2 separate regions of the Homo sapiens genome follow, and region 1 is linked to region 2. The links come from fine-mapping of genetic effects on gene expression. A gene starts in region 2. The other region holds a variant in brackets. All regions are shown on one strand. Distances are between the middles of the regions. Region 1 overlaps ZDHHC13 (zDHHC palmitoyltransferase 13). Region 2 holds the start of CSRP3 (cysteine and glycine rich protein 3).

What was found. PIP is the estimated chance that this variant, and not a neighbour inherited with it, causes the effect.
Region 1: its variant is fine-mapped to the expression of CSRP3 in prefrontal cortex (CommonMind, PIP 0.95).

What each region holds. Positions count from the first base shown.
Region 1 is chr11:19,171,906-19,181,422 of GRCh38, reverse strand. ZDHHC13 (zDHHC palmitoyltransferase 13) reads right to left here. Exons shown (of 17, transcript NM_019028.3): 16 at 8,603-8,700; 17 at 5,008-5,601. The coding sequence ends at 5,463. Among named protein-coding and RNA genes, the nearest start is that of CSRP3-AS1, 20 kb to the left of the region's middle. RefSeq lists an enhancer at 6,434-8,886. The variant C/T (reference allele first, on the strand shown) is at 5,605.
Region 2 is chr11:19,197,357-19,206,873 of GRCh38, reverse strand. It overlaps CSRP3 (cysteine and glycine rich protein 3), which reads left to right and starts at 4,891. Exons shown (of 6, transcript NM_003476.5): 1 at 4,891-4,920. The region is part of intron 1 of CSRP3-AS1 (CSRP3 and E2F8 antisense RNA 1); the gene reads right to left. RefSeq lists an enhancer at 1-489.

The DNA of each region.
Region 1 (9,517 bases), 25 kb after region 2:
GTCTCCTGGATTCTGACTCCAAATGTCTCTAGAATACATCCCCTCCATCCCTCTTTTTAGGATGTGTAATAGTCTGTTAGGGTTGCCATAAGAAAGTACCACAGGCTGAGTGACTTAATAGAAACGTATCGTCTCACATTTCTGGAGGCTGAAGTCTGAGATCAAGGTGTCAGCAGTGTTAGTTTCTTCTGACACCACTCTCATTGGCTTGGAGATGGGTGTCTTCTCCCTTTGTCTTCACATGGTTTTTGCTCTGTGGGTGTCTGTGGTCTAATCTCCACTTCTTGGAAGGACACCAGTCATATTGGATTAGGGACCACCTGAATGACCTCACTGTAACTTAATTACCTTTTTCAAGGCCCTTATCTACACATGCAGCCATCACATTCTGAGGTACTGGGGGTTAGGACTTCAACAAATAAATTTTGCAGAGACACAGTTCAGCCCATAACAGTGTATCACATAAAGACTTTCACAAATTGGCCTTGGCCTTACCCCTTCAACTTAGCTTTAGACAATCTCTTCCAGACAAGTTCCAGCTACACTCAAAGACTCGGAGCTTTCCAAACATGCCCAGAACCCTCACCCCATCATGTCTTTGCTAATGCTGTTCCTTCTGCCTAGAATTCCTGGAAGATGGGAACCTCCCCCCATCTCTACCCACTAATCCAACTTCTTAGCCTGGTGAACTCCTATTAAGCAAGTCACAGGTCAAATGCCATCTCCTCTGGAAATTGTTCCTGAACTACCTGGGCAGAATTAATCTACCTCTGTACTCCCATAGCCGGTATGTAATTAGCATAGTACTTATGTCATCGTATTGAAATTTTGAATTCCTATTTGCCTCCTTGTAAGAATGTGACATGTCAAGCCATTCACAGTGCTTGACACATAGAAGACACCTAATAAACATTTGTTGAGTGAATGAAATAGGGGAGAGTATAGGCCAGGCTAAATGCAAATTCTGCTAGAATCTAAAAGTTTATTACATAGTGGACTGAATGAGTTTAGAAAAAAACAAAACAAAGGAAGAAGCTTATTGTGGTTCAGCAATAGTTGTATTTCCCTTCCACTTCTTGGGTATGCTGTTCCACTACATTTCCCAGGCTCCCTTGCTGTTCACTGAGACACATGAGTGAGTTTGCCCAATGAAGTCCTGGCCTCCATGACCTTTCAGGAGAGTCTCCATTCTTTCCATATGTCTGGATGCAGAAGTCCAGTGGATACTGAGGCCCTAGGAATGGTGGAGCCACTAGATGGGAAGCAGCTTGAGTCACTGCATGGAAGAACACCTGCTAACAGCTAAACAGACCATGACATGAGAAAGAAACATTGTGTGAAGCCACTGAGATTGGGAGGATATTTATTATTGCATGAGCTCCCATGACTACTACACACCTGAAATATAGACTGTGCTACATCCAAGTGATTCCACTCATGGTGCCAGCGTCCATCCTAAGTCACAGGGGGCATGATCAAGATTTTGCCTGATATTTGTGAAAGAGATTCAAATTTGTTGTCTCCAATGTGGCTATATACATATTTGAAGAAAGGAATAAAGTTATGGCAAAATAGCATAACAGTCACATTCCCCTGGCCCTGAAAAACATGATTGGGTTTGTCTTGGATTTAAAATAAAACAAAGACTAAACCTTGCTATTATGCCACAAGCTACTGCCGTCTCCTCTCTCCTTTCAGAGCCAAGCTGTAAGACTAGATTCCACTTAGTCCTTAGTCTTTTAGACTCTTTAGTCTTCCTTGCCTCTACTCTCCATCCTCAACCACCACTAATAACTGAGGCCACTAATAACCTCTTTTTTTTTTTTTTTTTGAGATGGAGTCTCTCTCTGTTGCACAGGCTAGAGTGCAATGGCACTATCTCAGCTCACTGCAACCTCTGCCTCCTGGGTTCAAGCGATTCTCTTGCCTCAGCTTCCTGAGTAGCTGGGATTACAGGTGTGTACCACCATGCCTGGCTAATTTTTGTATTTTTAGTAGAGATGGGGTTTCCACCATGTTGGCCAGCCTGGTCTCGAACTCCTGGCCTAAAGTGATTTGCCAATCCCCACCGCGCCCGGCCCTACTAATAACCTCTTAATCACAAACTCTTTTGTCTTTCATCAGCTATTCTCAACTTCTGCTCAAGCTGCTCCTTAGTTCCTGCCAACTGACTGCTTCCTCTCTGAAATGAATCCTCTCTTGATTCTATGACACTATTATTATTATTATTATTATTATTTTGAGGTGGAGTTTCCCTCTTGTTGCCCAGGCTGGAGTGCAGTGACACAATCTCAGCTCACCGCAACCTCCACCTCCCAGGTTCAAGCGATTCTCCTGCCTCAGCCTCCCGAGTAGCAGGGATTACGGGAATGTGCCACCACACCCAGCTCATTTTGTATTTTTAGTAGAGATGGGGTTTCTCCATGTTGGTCAGGCTGGTCTCAAACTCCCGACCTCAGGTGATCTGCCCACCTCGGCCTCCCAAAGTGCTAGGATTACAGGAGTGGCACTGTGTCTGGCTGACACTACTTTCTTGTCCTCCTACTCGATCTCCTTTTAGTTACTTCTTCCTTCTCCAGCTCCCTAAATCCATATTCCATAAGCTTTTGCTCCTGCCCTTCTCCTTCCTCTCACACTTTTTAGTCTGTTTGTTCGCATTAGATGTCATCTTTGGTATCTTTTTAGCATTCATCTTTCCATTTGAGGAAGGTGACTCTCCATTTTCATCTATTTCCTACCTCTCCCCTGTGACAATCTTATCCATCTATGCAGATGATTCCCATCCATGCCCTGGCCTCTTTCCAGTTGCCTTCTAGACTTTCCCACTGGATAGCCTGCAAGTATCTCAAACTCAGTAGATCCCAGCCACCAAACTCATCACCTAGTCTCCCCACACTGTGTTCCTTATTTCTCAGAGTAGCATCTTCAACCTCTCATTCATTGGGTTCAACATTTCAAAGCCATCTTTGACTCCTCTTTTTCTCCCCGCATCCACTCTGTGATCTGGGCCTGCTGGGTCTCCTCTGTGCCACTGTCATCATCTTGCTTCAGGCCTTCATTACCTCTTGCCTAGACCATCATTAACAGCTTATTTCTAATATTCTGTATCTGTCAAGTTTCACCAGAAAAACAGAAACCACACTAGTTATTTTAATAAAGAGAATATAGTAAAGGGAATTAGCTAAACAGGTGCTATTATTTTTGAAAAAGTAACAAGGGAACACACTGATTTAACATAGAGATAGTAATTGCTAGAGGCAGCTATCACTCCTGGGAATAGGGAAACTAAGAGAAGAGATGGGTTATCATAATTCAGATGCCCAGAGAAGAAGTATCCCGGGGCAGAAGTCAGATGTCAAAGGAGAGAGCCCTGCCTGGTTATTGCTAGTACTTCTAATGGGGCACAATGAAGTAGGTTTTGGGAAGAAGAAAAGTTAGACATTGGTTCCAAAATGTCATTGCAGGGCAAAGGGCCATCGTTGGAGCAACACTGAGAGGAAGAGCGGGCAAGAAGAATGGAATAAGTCCCTTTTCTGCTCCTCCTTGCAGTCTACTACCGACTTTAACAGGAAGTCATCTGGCAGGGAGACTGTAGCTTGCAGAATTCTAGCCCTAGAACATACAACACAGAGCACGGAAGACTGGATTTGGTGCATTTCTCTACCTCTAGCTTATCTTTCTGGTAATCAGTTTTCTGTTAGACTTCTCAATTAATAGCCAGCATTTATTGAACATTTACTATATGCCAAGTACAATTCTAAGCACTTTTAAACATTAACACATTTAATTCTCATAATGACATTTCAAATTGTTTACTATTATTATCTACATAATCCAAATGAGGAAACTGAGTTTCTAGAGATTTATGTCATTTGCCCAAAGGGATTAAAAGTAACTTATGTGGTAATTAATAGGTCATAGATTCAAACCCAGGGTCCCTAGAATCTGGTCTCTTTACCACTACAACTGCATACCTATTAAGCAGTGATTCTCAAGCTTAAACTTTTCACAATGTATAGAATGGAGAAGGTAAGGTTCCTTAAGTAAATGATTCTCAAACAGTAGTATGCATATGTAAGAATCATTAGGATTCCAGCACTCTCTCCCTAGAGACTGATTTGAAAGGTCTGAGATGGAGAAACTGAATTTTAAACTGTGAGCCCTAGACACCCACCCTGGCCCTGTGACTCTGATCTAATGTCTCTGGACCATTTGGACCACAATACTAACTTGGTAGGAGTTGGTGAGAGAAGAAGGGAGAAAGAGAATATACCTTGAAAAAGCTCTTCTGTACTCCAATTGAGAAGCACAGTCTTCAAACACAATTCTGATAGCATCATCTCTTGCTTAAAACCCTGAAATTGGTTCAACAAATTCTAATATTTTTTGAACAAATACTATGTGTCACGTGATATTCTAGGTGACTGTGACTGTACAGTGGCAGCCCCATTTGGTATCTCTGTGACCCTGGAGAAGATAAAAACTTCTTTGGCTTTAGTTTCCTTATCTGCATCTCTTATCTCTGGTAGAAGAGAGAACGGATCCTTGCAATGAAAGGCCACATGATTAGAGTACAACATGCTCCACTGACACTGCTAAACAAAACAGGATTATATGCTTCAAGGCTTTGTAGGTCACAATGAGAATTTTTGCTTTTACCCCAAGAGCAACAGGAACCCAAGGGAGGTTATTCAGCAGGAAGGTGCCATGCCCAGGGGTGTATAAATACTATACTAAAGTTGAATTAGCATTTCCTGTAGAACAAGGGAAATTAGTAATTACAGTCATATCAGTCTAATATTTTGAGGGTACTAAGTAAAGTTGTAATTAATATTTAAGACTTTCTATGTTCTATTTTCTAAGTAAGATGAAAAACCAAATTAAATCTTGCTTACTGGTATTAATCATAATCTCAACTCATTCCTGGAATTGTGAACTAATTTGTGTCCTATGTACATCTTAATTTAAGACTCTAGAAGTGTTAAGTGTCAGAAACCAAGTCTCAACTACAAAAAAAAATTTTTTATTAAGTGTGAAAGCAAAACAGGTACATCTATTTAAATATTTTTTACATATTTATAGATACAACAAAGACAAATAACTTAGCAAAAATTACAAGTTTAAAGAATAGTACTATTTTGAAACAGCCAATATAGTATCTGAAAATATTCCATTTTATCCATAATCAGTGAGTATTATTTCCAAAAAAAGTAACTTGCATTTTCTTGTGAAAAATATGGTTTTTTTTTTAGATGTCTGCCAAGATTTATCAGAAAAGTCCATCTTTCTAAACCTAAAAAATTGTAATGCCTTTATTGAGAACTTTTTTTACCTAATGGCTTTAAAAACCACGTGTTTTCCTTTGGACTTAGGTGAATTCTAAATCTTTACTTCACTTTCAAACTACAGGGCATCGACATAAACAAAAACAAATCAGATTGAGAGTTTTGGGTTGCTTTTCTTCATACTGAGCGAAGAACCTTCTCCCTGGCTGGGTGAAAGACCATGGTGTACTGTGATGTCCAATCTACCACACAGGGCTTCACCAAGCCAAAGCAGCCACACTGAAAGAAATCTGCCAGGTTCTGCATGAATCCAAGACTG[C/T]CAAGAAAAAAAAAAAGAGAACATGTCTTACTATATTTCCTGTGTAGCTTGACAAACATTTATGGAGAATCTATAATATGCAATGTCCTTTGAACATCTTGCAGAAATCCAGGGGTAGATGGGGTAGATCAGATAGTTCCTGGGCTTCTGGTACCTTAAAACTGAAGCCTATTTCTGGACCTGAATCTATATTTGGAGATTTCCTGGCTTCTGCTCGCTCAGCCACTTAATTGGGTTTTTCATCATCACTTCATTTTGGATTCCCCACTTAATGGACTGGCCACTGACATCAATAAGTTTCTTTCTTTCTATTCCTACTTCCCTAATTCAGACCTTGATTACCTCAAAGGCCACATAGGCCAGAACAACTGTAATCAACAAGATGGGATTTTCCCTAAACCTTTTTTTTTTTTTTTTTTTTTTTTTTTTGAGACGGAGTCTCGCTCTGTCACCCAGGCTGGAGTGCAGTGGCGTGATCTCGGCTCACTGCAAGCTCTACCTCCCAGGTTCACGCCATTCTCCTGCCTCAGCCTCCTGAGTAGCTGGGACTATAGGCGCCCACCACCACACCCGGCTAATTTTTTGTATTTTTTTAGTAGAGACGGGGTTTCACCGTGTTAGCCAGGATGGTCTCAATCTCCTGACCTCGTGATCCGCCCACCTCAGCCTCCCAAAGTGCTGGGATTACAGGCATGAGCCACCGCACCCGGCCTCCCTAAACCTTATAAGTAACTCTCTAAATGAATTCTCTGTCTCAATTCCTTTTAATTCATCTTGCATATTGCAGACTGTTGTCCTCCAAAAACCCTGATATAGTCATAGCCCCTCACCTCCCAATCAAAACCCTTTAAAGATACTCCTCTGCCTAGAGGCTCAAATAAACATTCCTCCTCTTTGTATTCAAGGCTCTATATAAGGTATCCCTCTAGTTCTAGCTCCTCTGTGCATCTTTATAAATCTCCTGCTCCAGCTACTCTGGCTCTATTTTTCCCATGATCATAGATGCGTGGGCCTGGAACGCACACTGCTCTACACTTAGCTCAGGAACCCCCTTATCCTTTCAAGTCCTACCAGTTCTCAAGGCCCAGGCCAATACCCACATTTCCACTGGAGCTTTCCTGACTGCACTGTCTTAGGCATCATTTTTTCTCCATTAAATTTCGGAAGTACCACTATCTATTCCAGTTATGAGAAATGCTCATTTTTACGCATATGCTCTATCTTTTAAGTGCCTAACCCAATCCCTTACACACAACAAAACACACCTGTCCATGAGGATGACTGCGTTGCTGTTTAGAAGATTGTGTTCTGCATGGGGATGATGGCATTGCTGCCAGTAAAGGACCAACACTACTCAGAGGGCAACTTCCTGGGAAGAAGGCTATGTGGAGTTGATGGGTTGGCAGTGGGGATGCATGCTAGAAATGTATAGGGCCTGGTTCAAAAGCTAGTTAGAGTAGTGTCCCCTTCCCCTTGGTTTCAGTTTCAGTTACCTGTGGTCAACAGCAGCCCAAAAATATTAAAATGAAAAATTCCAGAAATAAACAATTAGTAAGCTTTAACTTGCATGCCGTTCTGCGGAGCATGATGAAATCTCACGCCATCCAGCTCTGTCTGCCTGAGACATAAATCATCCCTTTGTCTGGTGTTTCCACTCTGTCTACACTACCTGCCTGTTGGGTTATCAGACTGAAATAACATGGTATATACCGAGTTCAGTACTATCTGCAGTTTCAGGCATCCATTGGGGTTCTTAGAACATATCCCTCATGGAGAAAGGGTGACTACTGTACTGAGTAAAAGTAACTTAGGGGAGGAAAACAAGTAAAATCTTTGGTTTGGGCGGGACTCAGGTTTTCCCTTGAGTTCCTCTAGTTGATGCTGCCATCATTCAGCAAACGTGCTCTAGTGCTCTCATGTGTCCCTCTATTCAGACTCTTCTCTAGGGCTTGGAATGCCCTTCCTCCCTCCCAACTCCATTGTGCCCTGCCCCACATCTCTCAAGGCTCAGCTTCAAATTCCAACTCTATCACAGGCTTCCATAGTTTAGTGGAGTAAACATTTATTCCTCTGGTTTAGCTACAAAGAAAGGGATTTTATTATCACTGTCAATGTGAAACAATCATCACAAGTTTACGCTCCTTTCCACTCGCCATTGCTTTAGCCACCTCTTCCCAGTTAAGTCAATTTCTCTCCTCTCCTAAATACACATTGTAGTTATATCCCAGTCTCTGATCCCCTTGTCTAACAGCCTAACAGTTTCATCTTGTACCAACAGCATGCTTTAAAATAGACTGCTCATGAGATATGCAGCGAGCATTCAAATCCCCAGAGGGCTCTGGGTCACCTCTGCAGCACTCCCAGTTTCCAAGACCCTGCCATAAGTGGCAGGGAGATAAGCTTCAAAGCCCAATCTTTCATATCGTAAGACGAAGGTCTTTCTATACATACTCTCATTTTCAACTGAAAACGTGTTTTATACAACCAAATGCTCCAGGGGGAACAAATCCAAATCTGAAAAATTGGCTTCTCCCTGGTACAAGAGGGCACATTCAACATAGGGCTAGAAGAATTAGTGGTGATAGAAAGCCAGGCTGAAAATCCTGGCAAAGCACACAAGTGAACGCTCTCTACAGAGCACCCTGTGGCTGGCTCTCTCAGCCATACACTTAATTATCTCACATCAACTCCACGCCAGCAACAAACAACCTTGTGACCATGTGGCTTGACTGGAGAGATTCCCCACCTTGGCAAAACTTCAAAGTCACTTACTATTTGTGCTGTGTCCAGTAAACTAACTCTCGAATTCTTACCACCGTGGGGCTCACGACTTTACCACTCACCCCATCACTAAAGCTTCTCTAAGAAAAGGGGGGTCAACTGTACTAGATGGCAAATTACAGAACAGCAGCATGGCCATGGGTAGTGGCACCAGCTTAGGAAACCAGTGACTAGGGATCTTCCACAGGACTCAGCATCCAAAACAGGTCTCGCTTACTTGTATGGTGTCTTCCTGAGGGACAACGTCTGTTTCATATGCTTGCTCTGCTTCTGCAGGCTGATTCTCTCATGGGAGGTCAGGCCCAGAAAGGCAATCTGAAAAAGAAGGGTGGAAGGTTGCACACATTCAGTGTGCAACTTTTAGATAAATAAAACAATATAAGATCAGTATCAGTGCAATTATCTCAATTTGTGTGTTCTCCTTAGTATCTCCTTGAAAAGGGACAAAGAAAAAGTTAATCAGAAGTAAAGAACATTTAATTCCAAAAACATGGGGAAGACTGAGAATTAAGGTAACTTAAAAATTCTTAAATCATTAAAAACCATAACTACTCACAGAGTTATCTCATTTAAACCTCAAATTCCTTATCTGTAAAGCAGCTCATCATACCACTCTCATCATATTATTTTAAGGATTTGAGATAGTCTATTTAAAATACCTAACTGCGGCAGGGCACGGTGGCTCACGCCTGTAATCCCAGCACTTTGGCAGGCCGAGGCGGGTGGATCACGAGGTCAGGAGTTCGAGAGCAGCCTGGCCAACGTGGTGAAACCCCGTCTCCACTAAAAATACAAAAATTAGCTGGGCGTAGTGGTGGGCACCTGTAATCCCAGCTACTTGGGAGGCTGAGGCAGGAGAATCACTTGACACGGGAAGGCGGAGGTTGCAGTGAGCCGAGATCCCGCCACTGCACTCCAGCATGGGTGAAAGAGCGAAACTCTGTCTCAAAAAATAAATAAATAAATAAGTAAATAAAATCAAATACCTAATGCAGAGGATTAGAGAGATGAAGTAACTGATTCAAAGCCACACAGCTTAGAGTGGGAGAGCTGGGACTGACTCCTTGGTCAGTGTGAGAATAAAGCCATGCTCCTAACCAACAACCTAGACACTCATCTTGACTTGCTACAG
Region 2 (9,517 bases):
CCTCCAGAGAGAGTGGGACAGCTCACACCCAGGAAACACACCGCCACTGCACACACCTGGTAGCAGGCTCCATCCCTGTCCCACAGTCCCTGCGGGAAAGCTCCTTTAATCAGAGGTGGTATCCACCAAAAGGAAAACAGAAATTCTCAAATGACATGGTAAACACATATCCAAAAATCCCAAATATAGTTGAAAAACCAGCACTATGAAGATGAAACACCAAACTCAACACACAAAAGAACAAATATCCAAGAAAACATAATTGATAGAGCAAACAAAGAAGACTTCCCCCAAGTTAGTATAATGAATATCCCCAGAGAGATGCAAGATGATATGTCATTTATAAAGCAAGGATGGGCTATATGAAAAAATTAGGTATCTTAAAAATTATAAATGTAATTATTTTAAAATCAGTAGATGAGCTGAGCAGAATGTACATGGAGGAAATGCAAATTAGTTCCATGTAAGATTGAGCTAAGGAATTCTCCCTTAATAAACATAAAAGGACAAAGAAATTCTAACTTCTAATGAGAGTTTCAGCAAGAGGAAACATTACATATAGGGAGGGATTAATGAGAGAAATAATAAAAGGAAATTTCCTAAAGGAAAAAAAGTGAGTTTTCAAGTTGAACTCATCCACTAAATTTCAAGCAAAATAAAATTTAAAAGGCCGTAACACAGGAAATTGTCATAAAATTCAAGAGAAGATCCTGAAAGTTTCTAGAGGAAACAAGACAAGTCAATAAAGGAACATGAATATGACTGGCACCAAACTGTCATGTACGTTACTAAAAATAATTGAAGACAGTTTTCAAAGGTCTGACTGAAAATTATTTTGGATAGAGATTCCTAAATTTAACCAAACTAGCATTCAAGTGAAAGCAAAATGAAGACTATGAGGGGCGGGATAGTGTCCCTCCAAAATTCGTATGTTGAAGTCCTAACTCCCAGTAGCTCAGAACGGGACTGTATTTAGAGATAGGGTTCTTAAAGAGGTAATTAAGTTAAAATGAAATCATATGGGTGGCTCCTAATCCAATATGACTGCTGTCCTTGTAAGAAGAGGAAATTAGGACCCAGATACACAAGGAAGACCGTGTGCAGATACAGAGAGAAAACAGCCATCTACATTCAGAAGAAACCAACCCTGCCAGCACGTTGGTCTTGAACTTCCAGTTGCTGGAATTGTGCAAAAATAAGTTTCTGTTGTTTAAACCAGCCTGTCTATGGCATTTGTTACATTATGTGATAATTCAGTAAGTTTACAGCAGACTCTCTCAATGAATTCATCGAGAATGATTTACCTCACACACACACACACACACACACACACACACACATGCACACACACAGAATTAAAAATGTAAGGTACAAAAAGTAAATAAAGAACAGTAATTGGGAGGCTGAGTTGGTTGGATCACCTGAGGTCAGGAGTTCGACATCAGCCTGGCCAACACGGTGAAACCCCGTTTCTACTAAAAATACAAAAATTAGCCAGGCATGGTGGTGGGCACCTGTAACCCCAGCTACTTGGGAGGCTGAGGCAGGAGAATCACTTGAACCCAGGAGGCAGAGGTTGCAGTGAGCTGAGACTGCGCCACTGCACTCCAGCCTGGGTGACAAGAGCAAAACTCCATCTCAAAAAACAAACAACAACAATAACAAAACAGTAATTGAGTGAAGAAAGCACTAAAATTTATCATTAGGTTTAAGTAAGTACTAACCCATAATGAACAAAACTAATTACAATCCAAAACTGAAACTACACATCATGTTGTGGGGAGGTGTGTAAAGGCAAGTTCAGAATGTGCAAAGAGGGCAAGACGTGACGGTCAAAGTGCAGCATTCATTTCAAGCAAGGAAGCTCCTTTTATTTTTTAATGCTTAATTATAACTTTATTTTTTCCTTTGTTCTCCTAAAAAAATAAAACGGGATACATGTGCAGAGTGTGCAGGTTTGTTACATAGGCATACGTGTGCCACGGTGGTTTCTGCACCTATTGATCCATCCTCTAAGTTCCCTCTCCTCACCCATCCCCCACCCCACAGCAGGCCCTGGGGTGTGTTGTTCCCCTCTCTGTGTCCATGTGTTCTCATTGTTCAACTCCAACTTATGCATGGAAGCTCCTCTTTATTTATTTATTTATTTATTTATTTATTTATTTATTATGCTTTAAGTTTTAGGGCACATGTGCACAATGTGCAGGTTAGCTACATATGTATGCATGTGCCATGTTGGTGTGCTGCACCCATTAACTCGTCATTTAGCATTAGGTATATCTCCTAATGCTATCCCTACCCCCCCCCCCCCACCCCACAACAGGCCCCGGTGTGTGAGTTCCACTTCCTTGTCCATGTGTTGTCATTGTTCAATTCCCACCTATGAGTGAGAACATGCGGTGTTTGGTTTTTTGTCCTTGTGATAGTTTGCTGAGAATGATGGTTTCCAGCTTCATCCATGTCCCTATAAAGGACATGAACTCATCATTTTTTATGGCTGCATAGTATTCCATGGTGTATATGTGCCACATTTTCTTAATCCAGTCTATCATTGTTGGGCATTTGGGTTGGTTCCAAGTCTTTGCTATTGTGAATAGTGCCACAGTAAACATAAGTGTGCATGTGTCTTTATAGCAGCATGATTTATAATCCTTTGGGTATATACCCAGTAATGGGATGGCTGGGTCAAATGGTATTTCTAGTTCTAGATCCCTGAGGAATCACCACACTGACTTCCACAATGGTTGAACTAGTTTACAGTCCCACCAACAGTGTAAAAGTGTTCCTATTTCTCCACATCCTCTCCAGCAACTGTTTCCTGACTTTTTAATGATCGCCATTCTAACTGGTGTGAGATGGTATCTCATCGTGGTTTTGATTTGCATTTCTCAGACCTAAAACCATAAAAACCCTAGAAGAAAACCTAGGCAATACCATTCAGGACATAGGCATGGGCAAGGACTTCATGTCTAAAACACCAAAAGCAATGGCAACAAAACCAAAATTGACAAATGGGATCTAATTAAACTAAAGAGCTTCTGCACAGCAAAAGAAACTACCATCAGAGTGAACAGGCAACCTACAAAAATGGGAGAAAATTTTTGCAATCTACTCATCTGACAAAGGGCTAATATCCAGAATCTACAATGAACTCAAACAAATTTACAAGAAAAAAAAACAGACAACCCCATCAACAAGTGGGCGAAGGATAGGAACAGACACTTCTCAAAAGAAGACATTTATGCAGCCAAAAGACACATGAAAAAATGCTCATCATCACTGGAAGCTCCTCTTTTATCTGCTTTATATACTGATTTTCCTCTTATCTACAGAAAAAAGTATTCTGATGCAAACACACACACAAAAAAAATTTTAAAGCTACTATTGGTTGACCAGTTTCAGTGACTCAAGCCTGTAATCTCAGCACATTGAGAGGCCGAGGTGGGCAGATCACTTGACCCCAAAGTTTGAGACCAGCCTAGGCAAAATGGTGAAACCACATCCCTACAAAAAAATTAGCCAGGCGTGCTGGTGTGCGCCTATAGTCCCAGCTACTCAGGAGGCTGAGACAGGAGGATTGCTTGAGCCCAAAAGATCGAGGCTGCAGTGAGCTGTGATCATGCCACTGTACTCCAGCTTAGGCAACAGAACGGGACCATTTCTCTAAACAAACAAACAAACAAACAAACAAAAGCCACTATCCTAGACGATTTCTAAAGTCCTTTCTAGCTTTAACTTTCTAAAATCCTCGTGATTGCCTCGTCTTTATGATGAAGATGCCATTTAGTGAAAACACAGACCACGGATATCTCATAGGAGGCTATGCCACGGCCGTCTTTGTGAAATTACTGCAACCTTCTTGACAGTGAAATATTCTATCCTTCAACAATTGCTTTGTGGGCAGGTAACCAAAGGGCTAATATCTGATGTGAAGGCTGGATCATGAACCTCCCGGTTGGGTTCTACATGTACCTTACCTCAACATCCGGGTCAACATGAGTGGAAGGGGCTTGGTGCCTCAGTTTCCTCATCTATAACATGAAGAATTGGTCTTCACATCTCTGAACCTCTTGTCAGCTTTTCAATGCCATAATTTATATCAGTCCCTGGTGCTTGATCAAATTTAAACGGTGTGAATTCCAGACAAAGAAAAATTAGACCTCCAAAGAAAATATGGGTCTACAGAGACATATCAAGATGTTATAAATATAATGTGATGATGATAAATATGCACTGCTGTATCAAATTCTTAAATAGAAAAGGATAATAACAAAGTAAATCAAAACTTTTTAGAGAAAACTTCGTTTCCTAGGATAGATGGAGTGACAGGTCCCAAGTGATGTGCCAACCTTTTTTCTCCCAAGCTTCTTTGAAGAGATTATCTAAGTATCGTTTCAGACACCCATCACCCTTATTTTTAGCTCTGAGTTCTCTTCACGAGTGTGGTGACCTGTGGCTCTAAGTTCCAGAGGCTCCCAGATATGGCACATGACTCATTTGCAGGTACCCTGCAATGATTTCCAGGAAGGTCAGTGGGGTGGGGGCCTGGAGAAATGATTTTTGATGTTAAACCCTTAGCTCTTGTTCCTGTTCCAACCACTTGATCAGAAATGACACACTTCATAAATTGATCCCTTGGTGCCATAAGCAATTGGCAGTGCAAATAGAACCCAAGTGATTCGGTTCTCCAAGAGGCTCACAGCTGGCTGGGGGGTTGGGGGAGACAAAACTCAGGGCTTTGGTCACAGTCTATTTTCAGCCCCTGATAGCAGTTGTGTTACTCACGTCTCATTCACCCTCTCCCTTGGCCTCCCTCCTGCCCTTCCCCCAGCAGGCCAAGGCTGGTGACAGCCTTCATATATTTAAAGAGGACAAGAGCCCCTCAGACTCAGTTGAGCTGAACGGAGTCCACACAGGCAGGTGAGTGGAGCAAGGCAGACATTTGAGCTGGAGGTGGGTTGGTTCTGTGGCTGGTTTGGACTATAAAGGGTCCCATAGAGTAAGAGCACATTTTACGTCTCAAGTGCCAGCACCCTCTCTGGTTCTGTGCAAGGAGGCTCAAGTTGTACTTGACTCTGGTGTGGATCTAGCAGGTATTAAAAAATTCCTGCAAGGATGGTTAATATTTAGGGGGCTTAAGGGACCTCATAGGCAGATAAATGAGTAAAGAATTATCCTCATTATAAAACTACTTACGTGGTGGAATTACATTTCCTGTCATCTTAGTTGGAACAACTGGAAAGCGGGAGGAAATAATGGAAAGTCTGCTGACCTTCTCGTCTTACAACCACCATATAATTCATGGATGACAGACTTTGAGAAGGTTCCTGCCCTCAGGGGCTTGGTCTCCTCTTCTGCAAGGATCAATACAAATTGGCGACATTTTTTCCAAACTGTAAAGTACTGCACAGATACAAAGCGATAAGCGATTGTACTAGATGCAATATATAAGACAGCTTTCCCATGCTCAATTTACCTGGAATGGTGTTATTCAAAAGGTCGTGGTGAATGACTGAGATTTTGGGCTTGTTGATTTTAAATAGACTTTTGTATCCCAAAGATATTCAGCAACAAGTTTGCTTTTAATCTTTTGAAATTAATCAAAACTGGACCCCAAAAAGACATTGCTATGTTGAAATATATTAAAAGCTCTATTAAATGGGAGGATAATTTATCCAGTGGTTAGGATTCCCACTGTTTCCTCTAGGTTTTAGTCAAGGACTTTTTAAAATATCCCAGTGAATGACAGACATAGGTGTGATTGAGAATAAGAAGAGGTTTTAAGCAATGGTCTGAGTGGAAATGCTGCTGAAAGATCCAAGCTGCCGACTCTAATTTCTGCCCTGTTCCTGAGCCAAGGTGGTGACTCCTCCAAGAAGGAGGAGTTGAGTTACTGGTCTGAGGAACCTTGTCTCTGCAATACGATTCAATGTAATTTAATAAGCATGTATGGACCATCTCCTATGTCAGGGCTGGAGGGAGGTAGAGGCAGCTCTATGCAGGGAAGGGTATAAGTGAACAGCACGAAGAGTGGGAAATTGGGGATGGCCTGTGTCCTCAGTTTACATCTGGGATTAAATCTCAATGCTGGGTACATACAATTCATCACAATGCATGTAGAACTGCTTTATGATCCAGAAAATGTGAGGGAGTCTTATGACTTGGCTTTGTTCCCTTTCTGAACAACTCAGTCGTTTGTGGTCAGTGGCAATGAGCCCAGGCTATTGGGCAGGAGGTGTAGCTGAGCCCCAGGGCTTTGTGTCCTCCCTGGGGTTCAGGCAGACAGGTGCTCTGCAGCCCAGACACACGTGTCATCCATCAGAAACAGGAGACACAGGGCAAGGGGCCTCCTCCTTCGAAGGAGAGAAGGGGGGAAGGAAAGAGAGAAGGAGGGAGGGAGGAAGGGAGGAAGAGAGGAATGAAGGAAGAGGGAGCTGCAGCAGCATTCAGCCAGCAAATAGCCAAAATTCCCTTGGAGGAAGTGGAGACAGAATCTTGATAGAATAGAAACTCAGAAATCCTGGGATATTCAAGAAGAAAATAAAGATAATCAGTTATAGAGCCCGTTCAAATTATAGCTCTGAATATCACTTAACTTATCTGAGTTTCCATTTTCTGAACAATAAAACTAAGGGTAGCCTACCTCTATCAAAGGGACTTGTGAGAATTGAATGAGATAAAGTATAGGAAAGTACTTTTGTAAAGTTTAATATAACCGTACAAATATGTGAGAACGTTGAGAAAAGGCATACAGCCAAACCCAGTGGGTTTTGGGGGGGTTTCCTGCTAAGTACAAGCGTGCTGATAAAAGTCCAGAGGTCAGAGTGGGTAAGAAGCTGACCAGGAGTTAGAAGATAATTAATTTGTTTTACAAGAGGAAAGACCCAGGGCTAGGAATATAACACACAGGAAATACAAGTCTTGAGGCAGACAGATTTCCAGTTACAAGTGTGCTGTTCAGATATCTGTGAATAAATACTGTATAGAGGGTTGGGCTTCATGCACAAAGAGAAATGTGATGCCTGCAAATGTGAAAAACTGCAGTTATTCATCCCAGTGAAGAATGGCAGGAAGGGAGACAGTAATGGTCTTAAAGGGCATTGAGGATGGAGCCTTTTCTGAGCTTTACTGTGGGAAAGGGTTGATCATGATTTGATGGTCGTTTATGGCCTAGGCAGGCATGGAACGAGTACTAGCTTATTTAAGGGTCACAAAAAGTTATGCAAAACTCATTTTTCAGAGGAAGAAACTAAAGTTCTAGAAAGCTTAGGAATTGCCCAGCATCACATGGCTGAGAAAGCGGCAGAGCCAGGAGGTAAACTGGGATATGATGTGGTCTTTAGAAATAAATTGTAGAGGTCAAAATAGAACAAAGAGTGAGTTTTGGGAAGTAAAAGCTGGCCACGCTTCAGATATAATTTCACAAAAGGTGTAAGATGCCCATGTTCTACAGCCTTCATTTAATGTATGTCTACCATGTCTGAGTTTAAAAGGGGCTGAGAGCCAACACTCAGGTTTATTTCCATGCTGGCAATGAGCAACCTGTTCTTCCTGGGCTCTGTGAAAGGGCCTCTGGCCGGAGGACGTCATATATCTGGGTTCAGAAGCTCAGGAGGAAGCAGCCACTGACCTTGAATGTCCTACACCGAGAACTGAAGGGCATGAGCTCCCCAGACTACAGGGCCCCTGGCTAGGCATGCTGCCTCCAACCCAATCCAACAACGCAAGGGGACCGACTCTCACCCCGACCTGGGCACACCTGTCCTGGGGCACCGCACACTCCAAAGGCTGAAAAACAAAGCTGATTCACAGTCTGAACCAGAAGGGCCATGGAAAACAAGCAGGGAGTGAGTTGTTTGTTCTAAAAGAACAGACTTGAAAACTGGAGATAATGTAATAACAACAATAATAGTCATGATGCAAGTAACTACAATTATTCAATTCCTGCTATGTATTAAGTAATTCTATATGGTGTCTTAGCTATTATTATCTTCTTTAACCTGAAAACAACCTTCCCAGACAAGCCTTCTCATATTGTCTTTACATGAGGACATGCATTGAGGACACTGGGTCAGAGAATTTGAGCAACTTGCCCAGTGTTCAACAGTTAGTGTTTCTGAACTTAAGCTTGGTTCTTCCAAAGCCCATGGTTTTCACTGTGGCTATGTCATCTTTCTTACCCAAATTAAGAGTGAATAAAGGAGAGGGTTTGAGAGGGCACCCCATTGGGCAGCTTTTCTGCAAAGTGAGGTTTCAATCACTTTTCAGATCCTTAAATCTGTCTCAGGGCTTAAAGGACCCTTGAAGGGACTTCACTGTATAGCAGCCACTTGGACATCCGTCCCCACCTCAGCTGAAAATCAATAGTGCAGAAGAAATCTCCAGTTCCAAGGAAGCCCTTTCCATGTTGAACAGCCGTAACTCAGAAAGTCATTGATTTCAGTGAATGAATTCAGTTTCCCTGTTAGTCCCACCCTTGAATACCCTCTGTGTCCCATGGAGAGACAATGGATTGGTCACGTCTCAATTCCCATCAACTGGGAAGTCTGGGTGATGGAGGTGCTGACCCTTGTCCTCTCTCCAGTGTTATAAACAGGAGCATGAGATACAGAACCAGCTTAACGGGGGGTTAAATGGCAGCTCTTCCAATTACTAGCTGTGTGACCTTGGAAAAGCTACTTAAGCTCTTCAGTTCTCTTATCCATAAAAATGGAAATAAAATTTGCTCTGGGCAGCTGTTGTAAGTATTAAAAAATAATATATGTAAAGCAACTGACATAAAATAATATATGTAAAGCTTTGGAGTCAGAGAAACGTAAGTTCCAATCTATTCATGTGACACATATCAGTCCCATGAACTTGGACTAATGTAATTTCCCAAAGCCTCCATTTCCTCATCTGTAAAGTAAATGTTATAATAGCACCTACCTTGAAGGGTTGTTGTGAAGATTAAACGATACCCAAGGGCAGTGCTCCAGGCATGTTAACTTCAATAATAAAGTTAGAAATGACTATTACTATCGCTTAGATTCCATATATATATATATATATGTTCCTATGATCCAAAATCTTTGCTTCAGCCAGTGTAGACAATTGAACTCACTGCAGGAAATCAGGCATCTAGTAGGATGACCAACTGAGCTAGCACTGAGCTGAAAACGGTGGCATTGTGGCACTGTGGCTTGAGGTCTCTGCCCAAAGTCATGGCCTAAAGTTCCCTCCTGGGTGCTCATTTTATGTACCCACCACTTTTGCCCTAACTCATCATTGCTCAGCTTTATAGTTGGTAGTGAAAGAAGAAAGAAAGAAAGAAAGAAAGAAAGAAAGAAAGAAAGAAAGAAAGAAAGAAAGAAAGAAAGAAAGAAAGAAAGAGGAAAAGAGGGAGAGAAAGAGATGGAGAGAGGAAGGGAGGGAAGGAAAGGAAAAAGGATGGAAAGAAGGAGGGAAGGAAGGAAGGAAGGAAGGAAGGAAGGAAGGAAGGAAGGGAGGGAGGGAGGGAGGGAGGGAGGGAGGGAGG